Linked DNA regions of Homo sapiens. The protein of the gene in region 2 interacts with the protein of the main gene of each other region in a pairwise test. Each region holds a gene or a part of one and is shown on either strand. Other genes may lie near its edges.

Evidence for each region.
Region 1: the proteins of HERPUD2 (region 2) and SLC7A1 interact in binary tests that used the Homo sapiens proteins (3 or more experiments, as listed by UniProt).

The regions. Positions count from the first base shown.
Region 1 is NC_000013.11:29,589,036-29,592,688, forward strand, and holds part of SLC7A1 (high affinity cationic amino acid transporter 1), read right to left. Parts: intron 1-3,653. UniProt on the Homo sapiens protein: High-affinity, low capacity permease involved in the transport of the cationic amino acids (arginine, lysine and ornithine) in non-hepatic tissues.
Region 2 is NC_000007.14:35,667,636-35,671,288, forward strand, and holds part of HERPUD2 (homocysteine-responsive endoplasmic reticulum-resident ubiquitin-like domain member 2 protein), read right to left. Parts: intron 2,694-3,653; coding exon 2,580-2,693; intron 1-2,579. UniProt on the Homo sapiens protein: Could be involved in the unfolded protein response (UPR) pathway.

The sequences.
Region 1 (3,653 bases), on a different chromosome or scaffold from region 2:
GGGCCAGGAAGACTCTCCCAAGTCACTTTGGGGAAGACGGGCCCTTGCTGCAGGCCCTGGTGTGGACAGCTCCTGCCCCAGCCTCTCTGAGAGTGTTAAAGATGCATCCTCTAAGGAAAGGGGGCACCTCCGCAAGATATTGTAGAAATCAGCAAAGCCAAGCCAAGGGCAGGATGACAGCGGCCACTGGCCTTAAGAAGGATGGAACACAGAAAAGGAAGCTGACTTTCCCCTACGAACAGTCTCTGATTTCCACAAGACCCCCTGCAAAGGGGTCTCCCCAGGTGGAGATGGAGGTGGAGTGTGGGCGTGGCTGGATGGTGATAAATCAAACAAGGCTCCATTGTGGTCTGGGCAGGAGGCATTGCATCCAGCCAAAGGCTGGTGATGTAAATGCCAAACTACTGACCCAGAAAGAATGCAGCCCAGCCTCCGTCACACACACCGGCTCCTGACACTGGCCACGTCCCAGCGCAGCTGCCCCAAGGACCCCAGGGCTCCAGCTGTGCCAGGTGCCTGGACTTGGGAGGGGGAAGACCCACTTTCAGAGACAGCAGAGGGAAATCAGGGCAAAGAGAGGGGAGGCAGGGTGCCCTCCAGCGTTGGGGCGGGTGACCGGTGCCAGCACCACCTGGACTCAGCCAGAAACAGAGGGACGCAGGCAGATGGGCTTCAGATCTGTCTGCCTCCCACTCAGTGTACACAGGGCAGGCCAGGCCAGGCCTATCCCGAGACAGGCTGGAGTCCAGGTACAGGCAGACATCTGGGTTCCAATCTTCACTCTGCCACTGACTGCCTACCTGTGTGCCCGTGGGCCACCTGCCTTCCCCTCTCCCCATCAGTCACACCAGAAGGGCCGATCCCACTGGGTGGTTAGGAAGATTCAAATGAAACATAGATAAAGCGCAGAGTACATGGTGAGCACTAAATAAGTGCTTGCAATGATTGATCTTACCTAGCCCCAGGGCCCCTCCCTTCCTTCCTACTTGGCCTAACAGACTTTGGCTAATGGCACTCAGTAAGCAGACAAGATGCAGAGAAGGACACTTCGAACACGTCCATAACAGATCAACTCCAGCCACTTTGTGGGGAGGATGAGCCCCTGCCTTCTCACTGCTGCCCCCAGGTGGGTGTCGCCCACCACCCCTGTGCTGTATGGAGACATCCTATCCTACAGACCCAAGCACGGGATGAGTGAGGTGGGAAACACGGCCCAGAGTTTCAGCTTTTCAGCTTTGCTTTTTCTAAAACCCAAGGGCTTCGGAGTAATTTGAACAACATGTTTGGGATGACTGTAGCCAGGGCAGTCACTCCCGTCCTGCCCCCCACCAAACACACACACATACATATACACATACACATACACATACACATAAACATACACATACCCACACACAGCAAACACTAAGAAAGGGGCTGAGAGCTCTGTTTCCCAGGAGTCCTAGAAGTCACTGAGCGCAAGGTGCATGGGTCTGAGTCCTAAGCAAACCTGCACCCCATGCTCAGGGAGACATCAGGATTCCAAAGAGAGATGGCTTCAAGTCCATCCAGGCAGTCAGAGCCAAAACAGCCCAGAGACTATTGTTCCTTCCCTCAGACCTGGGACCAGATGGGATGGTGAACCTGTCAGCAGATGCCTCAGAGGCCCGCATCCCTCCTCCAGCACCCTGGGACTATGTCTGCCCCTTCTAATTTAGAAACCCACCCAAGGAAAGAGCACAACATTTTAATGCCTTGGTAAAATGAGAGAGCGAAATTAAGTTGTTGTAAAAATTATTTTTCTCAGGGCTAGGCTAAGTGGCTCACGACCATAAACCTAGCACTTTAGGGAGGCGAGGCAGGTGGATCACTTGAGGCCAGGAGTTTGAGACCAGCCTGGGCAACATAATGAGATCCCTTCTCTACCAAAAAATAAAAAATAAAAATTAGCCGGGTGTGGTGGTACACACCTATGGTTCCAGGTACCTCAGAGGCTGAGGTGGGAGGATCGCTTGATCCCAGGAGGTGGAGGCTAATACAAGCTGTGACTGCACCACTGCACTCCAGCCTGGGTGACAGAGTGTGACCCTATCTCAAAATATATATATATTTTTCTCCCACACCTAAATCAAGGAACTGAGCCTTCTTTCCAGTATAATAGTTAACACTTACATGCAACATTTAGACTTGTGCCAGAGGCTGTGTTAAATCCATAACATGGATTATCTCATTTAAATCCTCTCAGTCCTATAAAGTAGGCACTAGAAGGCAATTATTATGCAAACAATATGAAAAAGAATTTAAATGTGGTTCTGAGGAATATCTCAGAAAAGACACTGACCCCGTAAGTGGAACCCACTCTGGGGCTCTGCTCTTTCTGCCAGTAGGGATCATGATGTCTCCTTTGACCCCACAGCGTAGAAGCCCCATAACCTCATGTTGCAGAGGCCCCATACCGAGCAGAGGCCACTCCCTGAGTCACCACTGCTAGATGGTTTCTACAATGCAGAACTCACTGTGCAGGACACGGCAGTGTGGGATCCACTTTTAAAGAAACAGGAAAGCAGCTGGTTGCCCTCACAGCCAAGAATCCGATCTGAACAAGTATTCTGAAGAAAGCACTGCAGTAGGAATATGGAAAGCTAGGAAACAAAATTGCCATGCCCTCTGTGCCCCCAGAAAAGGGAGGGGGGCAAGGGGACAATCAGAAAAAAATGGAAAGACAATGTAGCCAGACATAGTCCTACCAGAAGAAGGGACATCCTCTCCCACCTCCAAATAAACCCCCAGGTTTCCTCGCGCTTGATTTTTGGTTGCCACGGTCAGAAATTTTTGGTTGCCGTGGTCAGAATTGCAGGCTGCTAACAAAAGGACTGATCTCAAGAGAGAAATGTAAATGCATGGACTTGGTGCCTTGATTCTTTCAAAGAACACTGTGGACTCCATGCTTCCTAACTTCACTACTGTGAGGCTGAGAGGGACAGGCTCTCCCAATATACAGATGGAGCCAGTATGTAAGGTTCACGAAGTCTAAATTACTTCAGAGAGAAGCAAAGCCAGAGAAGCCAGGAGCGGTGCTGTTCCCAGTATTGGTCCCAACTCCCCTCAAAGAAGCATCCTTCGTTTCAGGGCAGATAATCATCCCATTCTGCATTGAAGCTGTGAAGGCCTCTTCCCTCAGTCACACGGCTCTGATTCCAGTTATCCAGTGTGTTCACCAAATGCAATACCTGCCATTCCCCACTGTTCCTGACAATAACTAGAGGAAAAAAGCCCAATGAAAGCCACTGGGTGTGGCAGGAGGGGCAAACCACAGACCAGCCAGAATCTGGTCCAAAGCCCAGAAACATCTTTTCTGAAGCCCAAGTTCCTGGGATGACCAAATCTCGACCAGTGGGCCAGGTAAATGGCATCCCCTGGGTCTGCCAACACTGCACATCTGAACGAATGCCTTGGGAGAAAAAGGAACACGGCTAGCAAGCCACCAAATCATTTTCCCAGTTTGATGCCCATCCTTCTGGTAATTCCATTTGGAAATGTACTAAGCCTGGATTGACAGATCATGACCCACACTGAACCACAGGGGTGGTTATTTTCAAGGCTGCTTTGTAGATGGGTATGGGAGTGGGGGAGGAGGCAGATTATGGCAAAACAGAAAGGGAGGCCACTAAAGT
Region 2 (3,653 bases):
TCATAAAATTACAGGCACATTACTAAAAACGTATTCATGAAATCCCTCTGCAAAATAACATTTCAGAAATTTACTGTTTTACATCGTGTGTCCAGTATAAGTAGATATTTTAATTTTAGTACGTCAAAACTTATCAAAACTGCTTAATTAAACTAAAATATTCCATTTTTTCAACTAGAAATGGCCGAGGAGCAGAATAATAATATACAAAAACAGCATATTAAATTCTGAGGATTAAGTTAATGCATAAAAAGCTCTTTTCACATGATTAAATTAATGCATGCAAAGCTCCTTTCATGATGCCTAACACATACATTTATTGAAAGTGTTCAATAAATGGTACTAATTACTGAGTCATTTAAACAGTTACTATGTGCCAAGTACTGTACAACATGCTATTGTTAACATATTGATTTAAAGTAATGAGAAACAGGCTAGAAATCCTAGAAATCAAAAGATCTAAAATCTAGTGTTATCTCTGACATTAACAAGAGTTATAACCTTAAAGGTTCACTTAACCTCTCAGAGTTTCCACTTTCCTACAGAAAATGAGATTGGACTAAATTTTCAAGATTCCTTTCAGTTCTAGAATTCTATTAGTTTATAGAAATCACCAACAAATATTGCTTTTTTACAAAATGAACTACGAGAATCAAGATGTTAATCAGTATTTTTTTATTCTCATGCTCAAATCTTTTTATTCTCGTGCTCATGGATTCAGTAACCATAAACAATATAACTCCCTGAAGACCATCCCAATTTGTTTGAAAATAGTTTGTCAAGTGTTTCATGTACATTTAAAACACAATTACATTTTACATAAATTATAGTTCTTCCACTTTAAAAAGCTAGGTACAGTATTATTTTAACATCCTTCCTTTAACAATTTTGTTAAATTGTATTTTACCCGTACTGCCTTCCTATTGACAGGATGTCTTTTTGCATGACTCCCATGCTAAGTCCTGCAATGTGAAAGGTCCAAAACTGTCTTTTGCAAAACAGTCCACACCAGTCTTTTGCAAGACTAACAAAAACTTTTAAAATGTTACTTCACACACAATAGATATCAAATATCTTACTAAGGAGTCCGGATTCTTAGGAACATAAACTGGGAAAGGTTTCTTTTTCAGCAAGATTTCTCATTAAATGGGCCATCATAATACGGTGTTCATTAATACAATTATTAGAAGAAAAGCCTAGTCATTTGGCAGCACAACCTAATTTCTCTAGAACTAATGATTTCTGACCTTATTAGGTAATTATTTTATGATTAGATCTTTAAAATATTTTCAAGTCCCTTGAAATTTCTGAACCATGAAAAATTAAGGTGAATTCAACTTAACATTCCTTTGATACTTTTCAGGCTTTCATAACACTGAAAAAAACAAATATACACACTAATGACACAAAATCATGGCTGAGCAACCCACTGGACAAGTCAAAGTCAGAGGGTTCTTTCCCAACAAAAATTGAAGCAATGCAACTGTGTCCGACGACTACAAAAAAAAACTCTGTGCCAATGCCAATGTCTGTGCCTTTCCATGCCAAGGCAGGAAACATACAAAGACCCTTGGGTGTTTTGACAAGGCATATTTTATTTAGTTTAATGTAAGCTAAATTCCCATGGCTGGTACTAGGAAATAGTTACCATTAAGAGAATACAAATTAAATACAGCAACTGGAGAAGCTAGTTTCTTAAAGAAGCAGTTAACTAGTATCTATTGAGAGAGTTTTCAACTAGCTCCCACCCCTGTCACTTGTGCTCTCTTTCAAGCTTTGGCTGGAGTCTTGACAAGGAAAGCATACTTAGCAGTAGAAAAGTTCCCTGACTGCTCAAGAAGTTGAAAGCAAGCTTCCACTCATCCAATCCTCTCACCTGCAAAGGTGTCATAGAAAGCTTTTATGGGAAATCAAAAATAACATAAAAGGATTGGGGACAATGTTTTTGAAATTTGTAGAAAATGTCTAAATTGAGAAGGTCAACTATTACAAAACATTTCCAAAACAATTTTAGGCAGATGGAAAAATAAGGATGGAGGAATGAATACCCAAGTCTGAAAGAGATTAATACATTAAGTATTTCCTCCCCAAGCAGGTGGAATGTACACCCAAATCCAGTCATTTTTAAAAAACAAAATCCTTGACCAAGTCATCTACTTCAAGAAGATTTAGGGTACTTAAATTTTAAACAATTTAATCCACCTTGAATAAAATATACTATTTTAAATACCTGGCATATTTCTGAAACGTCATTGGCCTAAGAGTTTATATTATATAACCGTAACATAATTCCGTTTTCTGAGTATTCCAGTAATTAAACCTTTGAAGATTAAATCTATTACTGACCTGCCATACAGCAAATTATAACTCAAGGTGAATAGACTTCAAGGGATAACACTGCGTATTAGATCTTTCAAAATGGTAAACTTTACAAAATGCCTAACTTTAGTTCAAAACACAATCTCAAAATTCACAAGCTCCAATTGTTCTGTTTTTCATTTAGTTTTTAGAGGCAAAAAATAAGACGACGACGAAAAAAAAAGAAAAGTTCAATGTTTACTCCTCCCAAAACAACTCACAGAATTGCTGCTGGATGCCAATGCTTCATGACTTTCTCTATTGGTGCTGGATTTTGGAGAACTGGGAGGAGTCCGAGAAGTACATACTAGATGAACCATATGATACTCATCTTGCTAAAATTAAAGAAGATTACATTTAAAGGGTAGTACTACAAAATGTACAGTTCAAAAAGTCAGTAGCTAAACTGAAATACCTAAAACTTAGGTCCCTTTCGAGCCTAGCCATTTAATTACTGATAAATTGTTATCATTTGAAGGTAAATTTGTCATTTTATTTGTGATCCTTTTGAATTCAATATTTTCTCCATACTTGGAAAATGATCTAAATACTCTGCAATTGCTGGGTTAAAAAATTATTTTGCATACGAAGCAGTCTTAAAGCAAACAATGTTGTGAAAGTTGTAACAGCACAATCTATAATTTCAGCATGAAAACATCTAGCACCTTAAACTTTTTACAGTTTACATATTTCCATCACTTGAGGCTTAGCAACTATAAAATAAACTCAAATAACTTCATCATAATCACATTTGCCTTAATTTTAGCAAGGTGATTTTTTTTACTCTTTTTTTCAGTCAAAAACTATTTTTATCTATAACACCTATACGCAGATATAAAGCATACATTTAAACTATATTCTGTAAATATCCCATGTTTTTCCATAAACCTAGAAATATGACTGAAGAAAAATATTCCAAATAACGATTAGGGTTGGCATTTTAGCTTAGTGAGATCATAAGCATATTTATTTATACTTAGACATAAAGCCAGCAAATAAGATGGGGAAAGGAAAGAAGGAATAAAGGAGGACAGAGAACAATGAAGGATGAGTCAGCTAGTTTTTTAAAAAGAAAAGAACAGAATGACAAAGAAAAAGGAGCAGAAAGAAAGATAACCAAATGGGGAGAAAGGGAAACAAAGCTACTAGAAACTATGAATGTATCACTTGCCTACCATGAACCTATAATTGTGCTTAATTTGGAGACAAATCCAAGAAAGGGTACAACAGGCCCTTCCTTAAAGAGGCTCATGATATTGTTAAGAGGGTAGACTAGTGCACTACAGCACAATTAG